Regions from separate parts of the Homo sapiens genome. Here region 2 is linked to region 1. Evidence: fine-mapped expression QTL. A gene starts in region 1. The other region holds a variant in brackets. All regions are shown on one strand. Distances are from middle to middle.

Region 1 (10,801 bases):
GAGCCGAGATCGTGCCACTGCACTCCAGCCTGGGCAACAGAGTGAGACTCCGTCTTAAAAAAAAAACTCAGGGTTTTGAAAAGACTTTTCTGCTAAAAGCAAGCACACTGTGGTGTAGATGCAGTCTGTCATGCTGCATCTACATGCCCATCATGCTGCTGGGAGGCCATTAGTGTGGGTTAGAGTGGGAAAGGATGGGAGGTAGGCAGGCCTTGGAGCATGGGGTGAGGGAAGGATGGACAGGTGGACCGATATTTGTGAAAACCATGAAATGCCAGTCTCAAACCAGGTGATTTGGCCAGAGCTCTCTTCTGATACTGCACAGAGGTTTGTGAACTGGAAGTAGTAAATGACAAAGCTCTTAGCAGAGATACCCCTGTGAGAGAACAAATTGGGTTCCTCACGCTAAGGGCAGGCTCTGGCCTCCTACACCTCATCTTTCTTCTTGGTGGCAGGACAATCCATGGACTGATCTATAATGCCCTGAAGTTGTTTATGGAAATGAATCAGAAGCTGTTTGATGACTGCACACAACAATACAAGGCAGAGAAGCAGAAGTGAGTATCTCTCTCCCCGGGAGACTTTCATCTTCTACCACCAGCTCACTGTGTTTCTCTCAAGCCCAACCCCAATCCTACTTTTGCTCCTCAGGGGCCGGTTCCGAATGAAGGAAAGGGAAGAGATGTGGCAAAAAATCGAGGAGCTGGCCCGGCTTAATCCCCAGGTGAGGTTTTCCTGCCACTGTTGTGAACTGAGGGGCCAGCCCATCTTGAGCTGGGGGAGAGTTTGTTGGGGGAGGAATATGGGGCACACAGGCCCCCAAGCCTCTGAAGTGGCTCTTAACGCTTGTCCATGTCTCCTCACTCAGTATCCCATGTTCCGAGCCCCTCCACCACTGCCCCCTGTGTACTCGATGGAGACAGAGACCCCCACAGCTGAGGACATCCAGCTTCTGAAGAGGACTGTGGAGACTGAGGCTGTTCAGGTGGGAGGGCAATGTAGGGGGATGGAGCAGAAATAATAGCTCTGGAAGGGAGAGGAGACAGAAACAGCAGAGCCAAAGAATAAGGGGACGGAACAATAGAATTCACTGGGAATTGGTCACCATTCCTCACCTTGTCCCTATTCACACACAGATGCTAAAAGACATCAAGAAGGAGAAAGTGCTGCTGCGGAGGAAGTCGGAGCTGCCCCAGGACGTGTACACCATCAAGGCACTGGAGGCGCACAAGCGGGCGGAAGAGTTCCTAACTGCCAGCCAGGAGGCTCTCTGACCCCTCACGTTCCTACCACAGGGCCACAGCCCACACAGCCCTGGGACACTGCCCTGGCCCTCCATACTCTGCTCCCTACTGGCTGTCTTGGGGGAAGGCAGCGCCTCTCTAGCTACTCAAGGGAGGGGGATGTGGGCACTTGAAGCAGGGACACCCACAGAATGGTCCCTCTTCTCCCCAAAAGGTGTTCATGCCTCCCTGTGGCTAGTACAGGCTGAGCACTAAGATGCTTAGTGCTCAGACAACCTGGGGATGCCTGTCCCCTACCTGCTCCTCACCCACAGCTACCTGAGGCTGCTCTGAGAAGTACACACAGGAATACATACGCTCCTCTATTCTTCCCTTCATCCTCATTTGAACGCCAGGTATCTCCCCTCCTCTCTCTCCCCTGCAGAGGCATGTAGGGAACAGCAGGAGATTATTCTCACCAAAGTTATGTCAAGCCCCATTGGTCCCAGAGTAGCTGAAGGGAAGCCAACCCCCCTGCAGCACAAATAGGCCCCCCAGTCCCAGCCGTGTGCTGGCAGATAGGGTTGTATTATTTCTTCTTACCCCATGCCTGACCAAGGGAGGTCAAAAGGAGAAAAGTATAGGCTGTGGACAATAACTGATGAATATAGGGCCCAGATGGACCAAGTGGGGCCGGGGAGGGATGAATAAACACCCTACCCCGTGCCCTGTCTTTGGTGAGCAGCAGCCCTGGGGTCACAGACATGGAAGGGACCACCCTGGGGCTGACTGCTTTTCTGTGCTGTTGGTTCCCAAAACTAGAAAGAAGGAAGCAGGGAGCGGTGCCCCAAGCATGGCTCCTGCCAACACCTATTTATTTCCTTGTTTGTGCTATGCTGGGCAGGCCTTCTCTTGTCCCTTATAGGTACCTTGGAGGGGCCAGGGGCTGAGGAAGGCCGGACCCAGGTTCCAGGGGCGCAGGCAGTGCGGCTTTTGGCTGTGTACATAGGGTGCTTTATTCTCCACAGAGTGATACATGCTAAGGTGGGTTGGGCTTGGACCGATGTCCCCATATGTACAGAACTGAATAAAGTGGGTCTCTGAGAAGTCTGATGTGCCTTGATGTGGAAAGGGAGACGGGGAAGATGGAAATGGACATTACAACCAGGGATGTGTTCAGTCCTGTGCTGGTTCTGGCCTGGAATGTAGGAATATAAGGCAGCTCTCACTGTGGTCACTTCCAGGCAGGGGATGCCTGCCGGGCTTGGAGGGCTTTCTGTACCACATCTTCCCACTGGGCATCCGATATCTCCCGAGCCCAGGCAGGAACCCCTGGCGCAGGCAGGCTTACTCCAGCCATTGTCCTTTTCACCAGCTCTACATGTTCTGAAATCAGAGCCAGAGGCCATTCAGGCATAGAAATAATGGGACCAGCTCCCCTCCCCAATCCCCGAATCAACCCAGAGCCCTTGGGCTGCTAGGGTCACCAAATCCACCTTGTTACTTTAAGGCAAGCCTGCCCATCCCCAAAGCTAGCAAAAGAGCATTTCACTTGGACTCTGAAGTCTACAAAATCTTAGTTTACAAACTATCTTTTTAGGATAGGGTCTTCCTCTGAAACTTCCTTCTACTGACTCATGCCAGTTCATTTCCTTAGTAATTATTCCAGAATGAAAGAATGATCTTTTACCTGGGTCCATGGGAATAGAGCTGTGGTTGTTCAACGCTGTAGCTCCCTCCTCATCTTCATCTTCACTCTCTAATGGTGGGTCTGGCAAATGAAGCCCCAGGGCCTGCAGAGCCACAGAAGACCGTTTGGGTCTAGGCTTTCAGGGAGCCCAGCTTCACCTGTTCAGGAACCATCCCTCCTCCACCCTACCTGGATTCGATCCTGGATGTCAGCAACTACATCTCCATCCCCCACTGGTGCCAGTTCCACCTCCTCTTGTTCAGGATCTTGGTTCAGGGGCTGGTAGGAGTAGCCAGCTGGGCCCGACCCCGTTTCCTCCTGCTCTTCCTCAGGCTCCTCACTGCTCCAATCCCCAGTGCCTTCTGAAGGGCCCTGATGTCCCAGTTCCTCAGTCTGATTGGGGAAGATACGCTCAGGGCCCATGGTGTCTCCTCCTAGAACTACTGTTGCCATCCGGGCAGGGGCTGCAAGAACAGGGAGGCGGTAGGACAGGGATCGGATGAAACCAGGCCCATCTTCATCCTCTCATCATCTCCTTGTAGTCTCCTGCGTGCAAAAAACCAGCTCCTCCCCGAGGCTCCTGCATCCTCCACCCCTCCGCCCCAATTCCAGCCTCTCGTTCCTCCCCCTCCTAAGTCGGGGTTCTTATCTTGAACCAGGCCCCACCAACTTGCTCCGCCACTTCCTAGTTAAACGCCCAACCGGAGGCCCTGCCACCTCCTAAAAGACACCCCTTCCAGAACCCCGGCTCCCCGCGCCACGCCTCCCCCGCGACTTGGGAACTCTGGGTCATCAGACTCCCCTAAACAGGTCGGCGTACCCGCCCCCTTCTCCCCTCTCCTAGAGGACCCCCTCTGTACCGCCTGACAGATGCCTTTCAGGCCCCATGGGCTCCCCTCAAATGGCCCCAGCTGCAGCGTCCCCCACCCGCCCCCATCCGAATCCCGGCGCCGGTGTTCCCGCGCGCCTCACCCGCTCAGAGCCCGCGGCCTCCACTTCCGGCGGGGCAGGACGTGCAGAGGTGCCTAGTCCTCCAGCCCCGCCCCATATCCATGATTGACGCTGGCGAGGACGAGGAGTCCGCCCCTTGCCCCGCCTCCGTCATTCCCAGCCCAAAAAACAAAGGACTGCATTACCCAGTGGCCTCCTCGGTCTCGACACATATTTGCACATGCGCAGAATCTCTCCTACGCCCCTGCCCACTCCTCAGCCCTCTCGTCCCTCAGGAAACGTATGGACTACAAGTCCCGAAATGCCTCCGGCACTTAGCTACGACTGCACGTGCGCGCACAGCTGCCCGCCGGAAGAACCGAGCTTGGCTGTGTTTATCTCGTTGGGGACTAAGGCGTCGGTTGGCGCGCAACGGGTTCTAGGCTGCAGGCAGCTCGAGGACCCGCGGCCCCGCCCCGGCTCGGCCTGGCAGGTAGCCTGGGATGGGTAGAAGGGCAAGGGAGAATTAGGGGGCTTAGGACGTGCTGTCTGGAGCTGGAGTGGCGGGGGAGGGGCCTGAGAGTGATGAGGTGGGGGTGGGGAGGGAGCTAGGGGGATGATGGGAAAGGAGAGTGTTAATGGGGAAAGCAGGGCTAGGGGAGGATGGCGAGGAGATGGGTAGGAGAGACCTGGTGTCTGGAGGAAGCAATGAAGGAAATGGGAAGGAAGACTGGGCCATGAAAACAGGGAAGCTGAGCATAATGGAAGGGGAGGGGTGTCTGGCGTGGTGGGCTAGGGGAGGCCGGAATGTCTGGAAGAAGACAGGGATAGAGTCATATGCAGAGAGGGGTATCGTGGTCAGTGCATGCTAATTTTTCTTTCCTTAGTGGAGGTGGGAAAATGGAGGGCTGTTGGGTGGAGCTTGGAATGGTAGGAGAAGGAAAAATGAGAAAACTGCAAAGCTCTCACGAGATCAAGAAGGGCGAGAAATGGGGAATAAAAAATGCAAGAGACCAGGCGGGTAGATACATTAAGGGAATAGAAGAAGTTTGAAAATGCTTGGTGGTGATGGAGGACTGGGGAGACCCAGGGATAAGAGGAGCCCCTGAGCGCCTGGGGGCTTGTTCTCCTTGAATTTGAGTTGTTTATATGGCAGAGAAACTAAAATTTTTTTTCTCCACCTTTGGCTGGAATTGCTTATCTCCTCTCCTGTGCATATTTTACTTTACCTTGACATATCTGAAGGGAAGAATAGAGAATATAAGGGAGGATGGAAGACTTCCATTCTTAAGCCCATCGACCTCCTAACAGTCTCCACAAGCCCAGACCCAAGATATTTTGGAGAGCGGGAGTAATGAAGTGAGAGTAGCTTCCTGCTGGGGCTATTTCAGGATGGGTCCCATGGCTATTTAAAGCTTAGGGTGTGGAGTTGGGGGAGGTTGGGTGGGTGGGACTAGCAAGCCAGCTGAAAGCCATGTCTCTTTCCTGCAAGGGGCCTCCCTTATTTGAGCTGTTTTAGTGCCTGAGGTTTTGCCTGGCCCTTTCCTCTGCCAGGGCTTCTTAAACAGGGAGCAGATGATGATACACCCAAACTCAGGAGATGCTTGCCAGCAAAAGCATTGTCAGTTGCAAGGATTTGCCTGAAAAAACCTCAGATGTACCCAGGTGTACGTGCCACTAGGTTGACAGGTTGTGTTTAAGAGACCATGACCAGCTGGGCATGGTGGCTCACGCCTGTAATCCCAGCACTTCAGGAGACCGAGGACGGTGGATCACCTGAGGTCAGGAGTTTGAGACCAGCCTGGCCAACATAGTGAGACCCCATCTCTACTAAAAATACAAAAATTAGCTGGGCATGGTGGCAGGCGCCTGTAATCCCAGCTACTTGGGAGGCTGAGGCAGGAGAATCGCTTGAACCCGGGAGGGAGGCAGAGTTTGCAGTGAGCTGAGATTGCACCATTGCGCTCCAGCCTGGGGGCAAGAGCGAGACTTCATCTAAAAAAAAAAAAAAAAAAAAAGACCATGACTTCTCATGCTGGATCTTTCTCTTGTCCTGCCCAAGGGCATTTTTTGCCTCCCTTCCCCTTTTTTTTTGTTTTGAGACAGAGTCTCGCTCTGTCGCCAGACTGGAGTGCAGTGGTGTGATCTCGGCTCACTCCAACCTCCGCCACCCGAGTGCAAGCAATTCTCCTGCCTCAGCCTCCTGAGTAGCTGGGACTACAGGTGCGCGCCACCGTGCCCAGCTAATTTTTGTATTTTTAGTAGAGACGGGTTTCACCATGTTGGCCAGGATGGTCTCCGTCTCTTGATCTCGTGATCCACCTGCCTCGGCCTCTCAGGGTGCTGGGATTACAGGTGTGAGCCACTGTGCCCAGCCCCTTCCCCTTTGCATTGCACACTCCCACCTCTATCCGCCTTTCAGGAACCCAAGTTGTGGAAGAGCTTGTTCTCTCTTTTCTACTGGAAATGGCTTGTTCTCTACCACAGTAGCAGGGATGGGGAAGTGGCAGGAGGAGAAAACCCCTCCCTCTATCACCATCCCCCAAGCCTAAGCATACACATACCTTTCTGGCTTAAGTCCTGGCAGCATACCAGGCACAGCTGTCAAAGGAACTCCTTGTGCCTGTGGGGGGCCCTGGGTGACCCCAATGACAACAACTCAGCTTGACAGGAGCTCCCTGTGAGGGGCTAACCAACCGCGGTAACATGGAGGTCCCTGTCCTGGATCAGTCCCGCCCTATCTTGGGTAGGGGGATTGTTCCACTCTAAAAGCCTGAAAGCTTTTCTGCTTTGAGGCACTCATGCCAGCTTTCAATGGACTGTTTGAGGCTGGCTGGGCTATTAATAGCTGTGAGTATTTTGAGATCCCTTTCCCCACCTCAAAGAACACAGATTCTTAGAGAGGTGGCAGTAAGCAGAGCAGAGACAAGAGAATATACCGTTTGGGAAGGGGGCTTCAAGTTTGTGCCAAGCCAGGGACAGAGTGGAGCCTCCACGAGTAGGTTGTGACCATGATATGCAGATTCTGAGCTGGCAATCAGGTGGGGGTGGCCCCACCCTTCACTGTTGGAGAACACTGGGCCCAGGCTGCTCCCTGACCTCGGCAGCTCCCTTGGGGCAGGGCCAGCCACCTGAGCTGAGACTAGTGCCCCTGTGGAGGGGTAGTGTGGGAGGGCCCCCAGGGTGACACTTGGAGGCAAAGGCTGGTTCTGGGCAGAGTCACAGTGAGCTGGGCAGAAGCCTCGCCTGAGGATCCCGTGGCCCCAATTTGTGTGCAGATAGCAGAGGCAGCAGGCCGTGCCGGGGGGGCATGTTGCTGTAACCAGTGGCCCAGGGGATGTTACGGTGGACAGTGCACCTGGAGGGCGGGCCCCGCAGGGTGAACCATGCTGCAGTGGCTGTCGGGCATCGGGTATACTCCTTCGGGGGTTACTGCTCTGGTGAAGACTATGAGACACTGCGTCAGATAGATGTGCACATTTTCAATGCAGGTAAGCCAATGCTGGGGCTGTCCCTGGGTCCCCACATCAGGGTGGGAACGGGCTGCTGATGAGGTTTGGCTGTGGTCTCTGGGACCAAGGGGATTGGGGACAAACATCTGGTTTGGGAAAAGTGGACAGCCTGGAGGGAGGTTCCCAGGGCTGAGCAGAGCTGTGCCCACAGTGTCCTTGCGTTGGACAAAGCTGCCCCCGGTGAAGTCTGCCATCCGTGGGCAAGCTCCTGTGGTACCCTACATGCGCTATGGACACTCAACCGTCCTCATCGACGACACAGTCCTCCTTTGGGGCGGGCGGAATGACACCGAAGGGGCCTGCAATGTGCTCTATGCCTTTGACGTCAGTGAGTATGGATCTCAGAGAGGCTATGTCCTTCCAGATGTTGCCTCAGTTGCCCAAGAAAGGTTTGGGTTGGGGGTCTTGGGGAGTAGAGTACCCCAGAGCTGAGGAGGGACTGTCATAGAGGGTGCTTAGTTGAGCCATTTTCTCATCTCCTTCAGATACGCACAAGTGGTTCACACCCCGAGTGTCAGGGACAGTTCCTGGGGCCCGGGATGGACATTCAGCCTGTGTCCTAGGCAAGATCATGTACATTTTTGGGGGCTACGAGCAGCAGGTAGGTCTGGGAATAAAATAAGAGGTTTAGGGTGGGACTGAGAAAGAGGGGAAGGGCAATTTAGGATGGTGAAATGGGAGGCTTTGGCTTGTTTGCAGGTTTTGAGGGGAGGGATGGAGGGTCAGAGAGTGACCATTGGCTCCCTCTTTTCTTCCTCCTTTTCTCTTCCTACTCAGGCGGACTGTTTTTCCAATGACATTCACAAGCTAGATACCAGCACCATGACATGGACTCTTATCTGTACAAAGGTCTGCTCTTTCTTTTTTTTCCCAAATCCCCACCCTCTGTTGAAGCAATGATAGGAAGCTCAGTCAGAGGAGATCCTCTTCCAGTCTTTGTGCTGACCCCTCCACCATCTCTCTGCCTCTGCCCAGGGCAGCCCTGCACGCTGGAGGGACTTCCACTCAGCCACAATGCTGGGAAGTCACATGTATGTCTTTGGGGGCCGTGCCGACCGCTTTGGGCCATTCCATTCCAACAATGAGATTTACTGCAACCGCATTCGAGTCTTTGACACCAGAACTGAGGCTTGGCTGGACTGTCCCCCGACTCCAGTGCTGCCTGAGGGGCGCCGGAGCCACTCGGCCTGTGAGTGTTTGTTACTTCCCTGTGGAGTTCCCTTCCTGCCCTCTTCACACTCCTGACACTTCCTCTCTCCTTCCAGTTGGCTACAATGGGGAGCTGTACATCTTTGGTGGTTATAATGCAAGGCTGAACCGGCACTTCCATGACCTCTGGAAGTTTAATCCTGGTAAAGAGCACTGCATTTAGGGCAGGAACAAGGAGCAATTGAGGTGGGAGGAAAAGAAAATAATCCTGAGGCGGTGAGGGATGGGGGTGGGGAAGATACCTGGACTAGGCAGGTATTGAACTTCCATATAAATTTCTCTTCAGTGTCCTTTACCTGGAAAAAGATTGAACCGAAGGGGAAGGGGCCATGTCCCCGCCGGCGCCAGTGCTGCTGTATTGTTGGTGACAAGATTGTCCTCTTTGGGGGTACCAGGTTAGAAGGAGAGAGGGAAGGGGCTCAGGGAAGTCACTAATGGGAGAGTGGGAGGTATTTGAAAAGGGGGTTTCGTGGGTAGTTTTTGTCCTACTTTCATCTCTCTTTTGATCCCGACAGTCCATCTCCTGAGGAAGGCCTGGGAGATGAATTTGACCTTATAGATCATTCTGACTTACACATTTTGGACTTTAGTAAGTATAGTTATTCCTGAATTGCTCCTGCCATCAAGGTCCCTGTCTTTGGGTGGTGATATCCAGGACTGGATCCTTTCCTCACCTTTGACCATCTCCTTTCCACAACTTCTCCCTTAAAGGCCCTAGTCTGAAGACTCTGTGCAAACTGGCCGTGATTCAGTATAACCTAGACCAGTCCTGTTTGCCTCATGATATCAGGTACAGCGAGTGGTTGGAAGGGAGGGATTGAGTGAGGGTGAGTGAGCAGCACAGGTGTGACCTGATTAGCTTGGTTTCAGTATGGAGGAGACAGACATTTTTGTTCTGCTGGAGATGTAGTGTACTTGTGGGAAATGAGATGGAAGGAGGTGAATTGACAGCCATCATATAAAACTGTCAGCAGAATAAATTATATGAAAAAAAAATACAGCTCGGCAGCATCACTTTCTGAGACCTAAGCTTATACAGTTATTTTTGTGACCATGCTGAGAACAACTGATTAAATCTTAGAACCTAGCTGCAAAGTAAAGACAAGTTTAGGAGCCTCTGGATCACATTGGTTCCAGAAGATCTGGCTGCTTCCCTTTGAATTTCGTTCTTAGGTTCCAATTAACCACCAGATGTTACTTTATGTATAATTTTTCAGGTTCAAATTAACCACCAGATGTTACTTTGTATATAATTTTTCCTGTCTGGGTCATTCTGAGATACTTCGTCTCTTTGTATCAGTTCAGTTTAACTCTTGCTGGCTGGGCATGGTGGCTCATACCTGTAATCCCATCACTTCGGGAGGTTGAGGTGGGCAAATCAGTTGAGGTCAGGAGTTCGAGACCATCCTGGCCACATGGTGAAGCCCTGTCTATACTAAAAATACAAAAATTAGCTGGGCATAGTGGCAGCCACCAGTAGTCCCAGCTACTTGGGAGGTTGAGGCAAGAGAATTGCTTGAACCCGGGAGGCGGGGGTTTCAGTGAGTCAAGATTGTGCCACTGCACCACTGTACTCCAGCCTAGGTGACAGAACAAGACTCAAAAAAAAAATTAATATGGTTGGGTGGGTGGGGAAGGCCTCAGGAAGGATAGGAGTGCTGAGTCAGAGCCTTAAAAGGATGGGAGTTAAGAGCAAAAATGGGTATTCCTGGTGGGGTGAGGCATTCCTGGTGAGGGTAAGGTGGAGGGGCTGCCTGGTTGGCTCTAAGCAAAGCAGGAAAGGCAGGTTGGGATGTTGACTGACATGTATACACAGATCTCAGGTGCCTGGACACTGCAATATACATACATACATAAACATAAACCGGAAATCCATATGAGCTTGGAGGTAGAGGAGTGGGTGGTGTTGGATTTGGTGGTGGGTGGGTTCTGATTGTTCAACCTAGTAGGTCTCTTAAGTAAGAGGTGGCTGTGGGTGGTTGACCTTTAGGAAGTTGGAGAGACTGGTGTGTTTTTAGCTTGGTTCAAACATCCCTTAGCTTGGGCTGAGGGCCCCCTCTTCTTTCTGTCTCTTATTGTTGGCCTTCCAGGTGGGAGCTGAATGCCATGACCACCAACAGCAATATCAGTCGCCCCATCGTCTCCTCCCATGGGTAGGAGGAAGTTTCTGCCACCTCCCCTCCTGAGCCTGCTGTCATCTTCACTGCCCCTGCCCATCTGTCACCCACCTGCTCCTT
Region 2 (10,801 bases), 91 kb after region 1:
GGCAGTGTGCTGAGATTGCGCCACTGCACTCCAGCCTGGGTCACAGAGCAAGACTCCGTCTCAAAAAAAAAAATAAAAAAAAAAAGAAAGATAGTTGTATCAAATAGTTTTGAGGGAAAATTTTGAAAAATGTTGAAGAAGTAGAGCCTGTAAATGCTTTGTAGAGACTGTCACAGAGCCAAGGAACAGATGGACAACAGCCTGTGTGTGTCACAAAGTTGATATAGCTTTGTTCTCAAATGCTGACAGTGCAGAAAACCACACTACTTAGAAACGTTGGTGTAAAAGTCTAATATAGAATACTTGAAAATTAAATCTAACACTATGATAAACGGTAATGTGCCATAAACAAGTAAAGGATGTATTCCCAAAAATGCATGGGTGGCTTACCCTTTATAACTCATCAACATAAGACGTCAGAGGTGGCTGGGCGTGGTGGTTCACGCCTGTAATCCCAGCACTTTGGGAGGCCGAGGCGGGCAGATCATCTGAGGTCAGGAGTTTGAGACCAGCCTGGCCAACATGGTGAGACCCCGTTTCTACTAAAAAAAATACAGAGTGCCACTTGACCCTCTGTGTCTTGCAGTTGATTGGTGTGCTTGCCTCCAACTCTGGAGGTGGGTGGTTCCAGCCCGTTCTTGGGAGCATCTCTTGGCCAGGTGAGGTGGCTCATGCCTGTAATCCCAGCACTTTGGGAGGCCGAGGTGGGCGGATCACCTGAGGTCAGGAGTTTGAGACCAGCCCGACCAATACAGTGAAACCCCATCTCTACTAAAAACCCAAAAATTAGCTGGGCATGGTGGCGGGCGCCTGTAGTCCCAGCTACTTGGGAGGCTTAGACAGGAGAATTGCTTGAACCCGGGAGATGGAGGTTGCAGTGAGCCAAGGCCGTGCCACTGCACTCCAGCTTGGGCAACAGAGCAAGACTCTGTCTCAAAGAAAAAAAAAAATTAGCCGGTTGTGTTGGCGGGTCCCTGTAATACCAGCTACTTGGGAGACTGGGGCAGGAGAATTGCTTAAACCCAGGAAGTGGAGGTTGCGGTGCATTGAGATCCTACCACTGCATTCCAGCCTGGGCAACAGAGCAAGACTTTGTTCCCCCTACCCCACCAAAAAAAAACCAAAAAAAAACAAACCAACCGCAAAGGTGTCACACAATTCTCTCAATAGAGGCAAAAATGACACTAGATATAAATTAACATCCATTTCTGATTAAAAAAACAAACATAGCCATCATTATACTTAAAAATGAAATACAATGCTATTTGCATTAAAATGAAGTTACTAAATTAAAATAATAAAGTCACTACTATTTATTATTATTTTAGCTGAAATAATGCTATAAGAAAGAATATAGCCAGGTGGCGTGTACCCATCGTCCCAGCTAGTTGGGAGGCTGAGGTGGGAGGATTGCAGCTTGGACAACTAAGCAAGACCCTGTCACTTACAGGAAAAAAAAAGACTGAAAGTCTAAATAAAGTTCATGTTTTTTGCAGAGGTACCTTTTTTACATGGGAAACCCAATTATCAACTGAAAAACTACTACAATCAGTGAGAGAACTGAGTCATTTGGGCAAATACAAAACCTACACAAAACCCAGAAGGTTTGCTGCTTATCAGCAAGTAACCATTTAGAAAATACAACAGGAACATTTATCCATTCACAGAATCAATAAAAATAAAAACAAAATGCTCAGGCATAAACCATTATAATGGAAACTGTATTGACAGCACCAGTAAATACCCTTCTCCCTTCTGAGTTTAAAACCAGTCGAAGGGGGTGAAAGAGAGGGAGAAAAACAGACAGACCAGGGATTGGATGATGGAGATCAGAGTATCACTTTTATTTGTTTTAAAGGCTAGGTTGAGCAAGCAACAAGGCTTTAATCTGAAGTGGATAAATGTCTTATTCATCCTTGAGTTAGGCAGACTTACTCCCTTGTCATAGCAGTGCTGGAGTATTACAGGTGTGTGTGTGTGTGTGTGTGTAGCCACCTATAAAAAATGTGTGCTCCCTGCAGGTGGAGCAGACCCCCCACTCCCAAGTGAAAGGAGGAAGGATCGGAGTCAAATATGCCCAATCAGACATCCCCCCACCTTGGGGCTGATGGAAGGAGGTGGAGTGAGGCTGGGAGTGATGCTTCAGTTACATCCCCCTTTACCTGGAGTGGGGAGGAGTTGTTCTTCCTTAAAACTTCCTTTGTTCTCTGAACTCACAGCCTTAACCTTTGAAGGCACTGGGTGCCTGGGGGCATGACTCTTCCCTCCAGGGAAGGGGCACAGCTGTCTGGCAACTATTCCTGCTCCACCTTCACTAACCACACTGTTCCTTTGGTGAATCCTTCTAGGACACCTGGAGAACAGAGTAGATTTTCCCTAGAAGGCTCTCAAATGGATCAAAATAGGACAGTATTTAAATTAATTTTGAGGCAAGTCTGCACCCGGGGTGAAAATCTCACTCCCATCTGTTTTCTCAAATCATGTGCAAACACTTTTTCTTCTTCGGTGAAGTAACGATTAGGAACAGGAACCTTCACTGTCTTGTTCACTGCTGTATTCTTAGTACTTAGAGCAGTGCCTGGCACATATAAGTCATTCAGTAATTTAATGACTATTCTGGAGGAGGGAGGGTGAGTGCCACATGTAATACAGAAAATCAGATCTTATATTTCTGATCTTATTAATTACAAAATAATAATAAGGTAACAGTAAGGAAAATAAGGCAACAAAGTTGAACATAAAATGGACAATAAGAAATTTAGGGCAATAAAATATCTCATATTCTCTGTTCCCCAAGTACCAATTTAAATTGAAATCTTGGTTGAGGGTGGGGGAGAAATTTAGCTAACCAGTTAAAAATGAAAAATTGCTTTATTTTCTTAAGAAGAAACAATGCTAATTAAAACAAAGTATTTTTTTAAAATTATTTATTTATTTATGAGATGGATTCTTGCTCTGTCGCCCAGGCTGGAGTACAATGGTGTGAGCTAGGCCCATTGTAACCTCTGCCCCCTGGGAGGGAGTAATTCTCCTGCCTCAGCCTCCTGAGAAGCTGGGATTACAGGCACATGCCACCACGCCTAGCTAATTTTTGTATTTTTAGTAGAGAAAATACAAAATACAACATGGTGAAAACCATGTTGGCCCAGGCTGGTCTTGAACTCCTGACCTGAAGTGATCCGCTCACCTCAGCCTCCCAGAGTGCTGGGATTACAGGTGTCAGCCTCCATGCCCAGCCACAAAGTATTATTTTATGTCTCTCAGGTTGACAAAGATATTAAGCATCAGTGTTGGTTAAGAAAGCGTAAATTAGCACAACTTTTTTTTTTTTTTTTTTTTTTGAGACGGAGTCTCACTCTGTCGCCCAGGCTGGAGTGCAGTGGCGTGATCTCCGCTCACTCCAATCTCCGCCTCCTGGGTTCATGCCATTCTCCTGTCTCAGCCTCTTGAGTAGCTGGGATTACAGGTGCCCGCCACCATGCTCAGCTAATTTTTGTATTTTTAGTAGAGACGGTGTTTCACCGTGTTAGCCAGGATGGTCTCGATCGCCTGACCTTGTGATCCACCCGCCACAGCCTCCCAAAGTGCTGGGATTATAGGCATGAGCCACCAAGCCCAGCCTTTTTTTTTTTTTTAAAAAAACTTCTCTGGAGATAATGCTGGATGTCATTTATCAAAAGCTTGAAATTATATTCTCTTTGTTTCCATTCTCTTTGGAAGTCATCCTACAGAAACCCTCTCATTATCAGTGTGCATAGATGCCTGTACAGAGAATAAGAATATTCTTCATAATGACAAAAAGAAAAAAAAAAAAGGAAAACCATCTGAATGCCCATTATTAGGGTATTGGATAAATAGGTTATGGGTAATTGATACAGTGAAATAATACACAGTGGTTGAAGTGAATGAGGTCGAATTATATGAACAGACATGGAAAGACATCTGTGGTTAACTGTATAGCAAAAAAAAAAAAAAAAAAAAGCAACTTGCAGAATAGCAGATATTAGAGGGTGAATTGTGTCCTCCCAAAATACATGTTGAAGTCCTAAGCCTCAGTACCTGTGAATATGACTTTATTTGGAATTAGGGTCTCTGTAGATATAATCAAGGTAAGATCAATTCATTAAGGTGAATGACGAATCCTGTATGACTGGTGGCGCCCCATGTGAAGAGAAAAGGCCCAGAGACAGAAGTACACCACAGGAAGACGGCTTGTGATAGCGAAGGCTGAGGTTGGAGTGATGTGGCTACAAGCCAAGGAGCACCAGGGATTGCTGACAGCCACCAGGAGCAAGGACAGAGGCGTGGAACAGACTCTCCCTCTGTGCCCTCCAGAAGGATCCAACCTCACCAACACTTTGATTTTGCACTCTGGCCTCCAGAGCTGCGAGAGGATAAATTTCTGTTATTTTAAGCCACCCAGTTGTGGTAATTTGTTATGGCAGCCCTGGGAAACTGATAGAGCAGGTATGGCATTATCCCGTAGCCGTGCCTTCTGTGACTGCGCCTGCCATTCTCTCCATGACAAAGAGCTTCTTCAGTCCATTTCCTACCCTAGCAACCACCTCCTTGGAAACAGGGACTCATTGTGGTTGTGATTTTTTTTTGTTGTTGGGGGACAGCCTGAGCAGGGTGGGTTTGCATTTCACCTCCTTTGCCTCCTTGCCCCAAAGTGGAGTTCTAATGGCCTCTTGGTGGGCTTCCTTCTCCTCATCCTTTTAACCCTGAGCATTCTGAATTACTCAGAGTTCTCTGATCATGCCTGGTCTTTGTGCTTCTGACTTGTTCTATTTGCCAAGTCCCGTTCCTTTTTTTGTTTTTGTTTGTTTGTTTTTTGAGACAGGGTCTTGCTCGATTACCTAGGCTGGAGTGCCCTGGCACAATCACAGCTCACCGCAGCCTTGACCTCCTGGACTCAAGGGATCCTCCTGTTGCAGCCTCCCAGGTGGCTGGGACTACAGGCTTGCACCACCATGCCTAGATAATGGGGTCTTACTGTGTTGCCCAGGCTGGTCTCGAACTCCTGGCCTCAAGTGATCTCTCCACCTCGACCTCCCAGAATGCTCAAAGTGCTGAGATTATAGCAGGCATGAGCCACCACACCCGCCCCTTTCCTTCGTAAAACCTTATGTTGAAGATCCTTCCAAGATTCCTCCCTGCCTTTTTTTTTTTTTTTTTTTTTGAGACAGAGTCTTGCTCTGTCACCCAGGCTGGAGTG[C/T]AGTGGTGTGATCTCGACTCATGGCAACCTCGGCCTCCCAAGTAACTGGGATTACAGGCGTGACACCCGGCTAATTTTTTGTATTTTTAGTACAGACGGGGTTTTACCATGTTGGCCAGGCTTGTCTTGAACTCCTGACCTAAAGTGCTCTCCTCACCTTGGCCTCCCAAAGTGCTGGGATTACAGGTGTGAGCCACCATGCCCAGCCTCTTCCCTGAATTTTTTTTTTTTTTGAGACAGAGTCTTGCTCTGTCACCCAGGCTGGAGTGCAGTGGCGCCATCTCGGCTCACTGCAAGCTCCACCTCCCAGGTTAAAGCGATTCTCCTGCCTCAGCCTCCTGAGTAGCTGGGACTATAGGTGTGCACCACCATGCCTGGCTAATTTTTGTATTTTTAGTAGAGGCGGATTTTCACCTTGTGGGCCAGACTGGTCTCGAACTCCTGACCTCAAGGTGATCTGCCATCCTCGACCTCCCAAAGTGCTGGGATTACAGGTGTGAGCCACCTCGCCTGGACTCCCTGACTTTTTAATCCCCTGACTCTGACTTAGATGCTTCTCTTGTGTGCCCTTTGCACCCACCCATCATCCTGTGTGATAATACAGCAAAGCCTACACGTTATGATAGACTTTCCTCAGGCCAGAAGACCTGAGATTTGAAGCCGGCATCTGTTACTCATCAGCTGTGTGATGTTTAGCAAACTGCTTTACCTTTCTTTGTCTCGTTTCCTTATCTGCATAATGGGGATCATAGTACCTACCCTACCAGATGGGCATTAGCATTATAACAAGTTAATATGGTTAAATGTTTGGAACAGTAAGTGGTCAGTAAGTGGTAGCTGTTACTTTAATTATATGTTTACTTGCCTGACTCTCCTACTAAACTGAGACACTTAAAGACAGTAATTGTGTGTTTCTCTCTCTGTCCCCAGTGTCTTATGAAGTACTTGGCACATGGTAGGCTCTAAGTAAATGATTGTTGAATTAAGAATGATAATTAATATAATTGCCTACCAGGATCCCATATTGGGCTTTGACCCCTGCTGGTTCCACATCATGTTGGGATAATGCGACCAAATTATCTGGCTCAGTAAAACCACCACAAATCGGCCGATATTTCCTGAGCACCTCTCACGGGCGAGGCATCTGCCATGGAGGAGACCAAGTGCGAGATCTGCATCTGTCCTCAGGAAGCTTAGAATCTAGTGGCGAAGACAGAGTTGTAAGCACATGAAATGTTAAATAGCGGTATTAGGGTTTTAACAGTTATTTACGGGAGTAATAGAAGATAAAGAGAATGTGTGTTCACGATTATTATTTCAGTTGGTGGCACATTGTTATCTAACTTCTGTCTTGTTTTCCAAATTTGTTCCAGAAAGCTGCTTTAACTTTTTTTTTTTTTTTTTTTGAGACAGTCTCGCCCTTGTTGCCCAGGCTGGAGTGCAATGGTGCAATCTTGGCTCACTGCAACCTCCGCCTCCCAGGTTCAAGCGATTCTCCTGCCTCAGCCTCCTGAGTAGCTGGGACTACAGGCGCCTGCCACCATGCCTGGCTAATTTTTGTATTTTTAGTAGAGACGGGGTTTCCCCATGCTGTCCAGGCTGGTCACAAACTTCTGACCTCAGGTGATCCTCCTGCCTTGGCTTCCCAAAGTGCTGGGATTATGGGCATGAGCCACCGCGCCCGGCCAACCTTTTTTTTTTTTTCCTTTAAAGACAGGGTCTCAGTTTGTTGCCCAGGCTGGAGTGCAGTGGCACGAGCACAGCTCACTGCAGCCTCCACCTCCTGGGTTCAAATGATCCTCCCATCTCAGCCTCCCAAGTAGCTGGGACTACAGGCGCATACCACCATGCCTGGCTAATTTCTGTAATATTTTTGTAGAGACGGGGTTTTACCGTGTTGCCCAGGCTGGTCTCGAACTCCTGGCCTCAAGCGATCCACCCGCCTCGGCCTCCCAAAGTGCTGGGATTCCAGGCATGAGCCACTGTGCCCAGACTTGTTAAACTTTTCAATAATGAGTTAGATGTAGAGGCTTCATCAAGTTCAGATTTGATTTTGTTTTTTCTTTATGTGTACCTCAGTAGGTACAATATCTGGTTGTCTGTTTGGAATGAGAAGCCATCACTAATCATTGCTAGATCCATTATTTCATTAGGGGGTTGTAAAATCATGGTATTCTGTTTATTAGCTGGAAACTTCTATAAACACCAATCTCCCCTCATTAACTGTTTGGTTACCCACAGATATAGCTGTTCAAGAAAGGGAAAAATAAATGCTTGATTCTTTACTGATTTTCAAAATAATGAGTTGGTTTTCTAACATTCTTCAAAGGTGGCCAGTGAGAGACTTTCAGTGTTTTGTGTTAAGCATCACTGTACACTTACGGATTTTAAACCTATTTGATGTGTTTTAGTCCATGTGGTTCTTACCCTTACGAATGCTTAAGTGGTCCTATCATTGGCTGATGGGAGCCTCTTCAAGCTGAGCCTGAACCTTTTTATTTATCTTATTTTTTTAAAGAGATAGGGTCTTGCTATGTTGTCCAAGCTGAACTTGAACTCCGGGGCTCAAGCAATCCTCCCACCTGAGCCACTCAAGTAGCTGGGACTACAGGAGCATGGCATCATACCCAGCAGGCCTTGAATCTTTTTTTTCCCCTGGACCTTTTGATGAGACCCTGCTAGTCTTTGCTTGTTTCCTTGTATGATAAGATGGAGTTCTAGGCTTCTCTTGTACATTTCCTATCCTGGAACTGGAATCAGCCAATTCTGCAAGGAGAAAGGACATAAATTTTTTAGAACATTAGTACAATATTACCAAACATTTTCCAGAAGGGATTTATTATAATTTATATTCCCTCCAGCAAAGTAGAAGGACTATTTTCTCCATATGCTTACCAGCGTTGAGTGTTATTTTTAAAATCTTGGCCTTCATTTGATGGGTAGAACTCGTTCTAATTTACATTTCTTAGATTACTAGTGCATTGGAGTATTTTCTTTTTTTTTTTTTTTGAGACAGAGTCTTGCTCTGTCACCCAGGCAGGAGTGCAGTGGCGTGATCTCAGCTCACTGCAAACTCTGCCTCCCGGGTTCACACCATTCTCCTGGCTTAGCCTCCCGAGTAGCTGGGACTACAGGTGCCCACGACCACGCCCGGCTAATTTTTTGTATTATTAGTAGAGACGGGGTTTCACCGTGTTAGTCAGGATGATCTCGATTTCCTGACCTCGTGATCCACCTGCCTCGGCCTCCCAAAGTGCTGAGATTACAGGCGTGAGCCACCATGCCCGGCCTTTTTTTTTTTTTTTTTGAGACAGAGTCTCGCTGTATCGCCCAGGCTAGAGTGCAGTGGCGTGATTTTGGCTCACAGCAACCTCCGTCTCCTAGGTTCCAGTGATTCTCCTGCCTCAGTCTCCTGAGTAGCTGGGATTACAGGCGCGCAACACCATGCCCAGCTAATTTTTTGTATGTTTAGAATACAAAATACATGCTGGCCAGGCTGGTCTCGAACTCTTGACCTCGTGATCTGCCTGCCTCAGCTTTCCAAAGTGCTGGGATTACAGGTGTAAGCCACCATGCCTGGCCTGGAGTATTTTCCTATATTTATTAATCATTTATGTTTGTTTTGAGAACTCTTCATATTGTCTTGACCATGTTTCTATTAGAATTTTAGCAGGTTTTTTTTTTGTTGTTGTTGTTGCTGTTTTGTTTTTGTTTTTGTTTTTGAGATGGAATTTTGCTCTTAGTGCCCAGGCTGGAGTACAGTGGCGCAATCTTGGCTCACTGCAACCTCCGCCTCTGGGTTCAAGCGATTCTCTTGCCTCAGCCTCCCAAGTAGCTGGGATTACAGGCATGTGCCACCTTGCCTGGCTAATTTTTTTGTATTTTTATTAGAGACAGGGTTTCACCATGTTAGGCTGGTTTTGAGCTCCTGTCCTCAGGTGATCCACCCGCCTCGGCCTCCCAAAGTGCTGGGATTACAGGTTTGACCCACTGTGCCTGGCCGAATTTTAACAGTTTTTATGAATGATTTGTTACTTTTCATATATCAAGGCCAGCAACCCCTCTTCTGTCATTTACTTAAAGTCATTTGTCTGACTTGTCATTGCTGCTGACGGTCATTTCTACCTTGTATCTTACGTAGTCAGGCATTCTCCTTTAGATAGCATAGACTTTCCAGGCCTCTGTTGGCGGGGCCTCCTAGGATCGGAAAGCTGAAGTCTAATAGTGATCTCTAGGCATTCATTGGTGCATGAACATTACTGTGTTCTCTTCACCTAATAACTGTTTGTGTTCCTTGAGGCCAGAGGCCTGCTTCATACCAAGATGACTGGGTCCATTTTCACCCAGATAGGCTCACTCTGATTTTGGTTCATGCTGAAGGTACTTCTGTTTTGAACAGCTTCTGGGGGAAGTAAATGAAACTATAAGCAACTGCTAATCTGCACCCCTATTAGGAATGCAAGCAGAGCATTGTCTGGAGGTGCCCAAGGTAGACAGAATGCAAAGCTGCCAGCAATCAGTAGCTACCCCTCTGAACTTCACCAGCACAGGGTGGCACCTCTTGAACTGTGGAGTCCCACGTACCTGTATTTAGTGATCAGGTGGAGCATCAGGCAGCTGAGGGACAGAGCTTCAGACCTCAGGGTGTCTGTTCAGAGAGAACCACTACAGCAGAGATTGGATGAGGGAAATCAAGCAGGCACTTAGCATCTCCAAATGGTCTGTGTAGAGGAATGCTGACAAAGGCCAGTGCTGGCTTAGGGATGGTTGTGATGGAGTGCAGGTTCTAAAAAATGAAAAAATCCTGAATATAATGATGACAATAAATAATGGCTAAGAGTCCAAACTCACATAATACTTCCTATGTGCCAGGCACTGTTTCACACTGCTACCTCTGTTACCATGTGAATTTTCTTTTTGCAACAAGCCTATGAGGCCAGTACTGTTACTTGCATCTTTTATTTTATTTATTTTGAGACAGGTCTCACTCTGTCACACAGGCTGGGATGCAGTGGCACGATCATTGCTCACTGCAGCCTCAACCTGATCTCCTGGTCTCAAGTGATCCTCCCACCTCAGTCTCCTGAGTAGCTGGGACCACAGGTGCATACCACCATGCCCAGCTAATTCTTTTTTTTTTTTTTTTTAATATTTAGTAGAGATGAGGTCTTACTGTGTTGCCCAGGCTGGTCTTGAACCCCTGAGCTCAAGCAGTCCTCCCACCTTGGCCTCCCAAAGTGCTGGGATTACAGGCGTGAGCCACTGCACCTGGCCTATTAGCACCATTTTATAGATACAAAAATGAAGGCATGGAAAGGATAAACAGCTTGTCCAAGGTCATACTCTTGGTAAGTGAGGGAGTGTATTTGAATACAGGTAGTCTGACTCCAGTCTCTGAACTTTTAACCTCATCTCCACCCTGCATCTACACTGTATGCCAGCACCTTACAGTTACATGTTTTGTAAACTTTCCAGAGGCATTTCATCCTTGTAGAGGCTCTGCAGGATAGAGAGCAGGTGTTGCTGCTAGCCAGTTTTATTTATTTATTTATTTATTTATTTATTTATTTATTTATTTAGAGA

What was found. PIP is the estimated chance that this variant, and not a neighbour inherited with it, causes the effect. A credible set is the group of variants that fine-mapping cannot tell apart.
Region 2: its variant is the best candidate, but not a certain one, in a credible set for the expression of MEA1 in lung (GTEx, PIP 0.58).

What each region holds. Positions count from the first base shown.
Region 1 is chr6:43,010,013-43,020,813 of GRCh38, forward strand. MEA1 (male-enhanced antigen 1) reads right to left here and starts at 3,934. Exons shown (of 4, transcript NM_014623.4): 1 at 3,774-3,934; 2 at 3,103-3,377; 3 at 2,914-3,016; 4 at 1,131-2,609. The coding sequence starts at 3,801. The coding sequence ends at 2,458. It overlaps PPP2R5D (protein phosphatase 2 regulatory subunit B'delta), which reads left to right. Exons shown (of 16, transcript NM_006245.4): 13 at 456-557; 14 at 652-724; 15 at 869-985; 16 at 1,137-2,330. The coding sequence ends at 1,274. It overlaps KLHDC3 (kelch domain containing 3), which reads left to right and starts at 4,237. Exons shown (of 11, transcript NM_057161.4): 1 at 4,237-4,336; 2 at 7,122-7,334; 3 at 7,507-7,683; 4 at 7,841-7,956; 5 at 8,133-8,204; 6 at 8,331-8,544; 7 at 8,621-8,707; 8 at 8,851-8,959; 9 at 9,080-9,153; 10 at 9,276-9,354; 11 at 10,655-10,801. The coding sequence starts at 7,181. The coding sequence ends at 10,721. RefSeq lists enhancers at 1,602-2,102, 4,066-4,185 and a silencer at 3,806-3,855.
Region 2 is chr6:43,101,490-43,112,290 of GRCh38, forward strand. All of the region lies in intron 1 of PTK7 (protein tyrosine kinase 7 (inactive)), which reads left to right. Among named protein-coding and RNA genes, the nearest start is that of PTK7, 31 kb to the left of the region's middle. The variant C/T (reference allele first, on the strand shown) is at 5,219.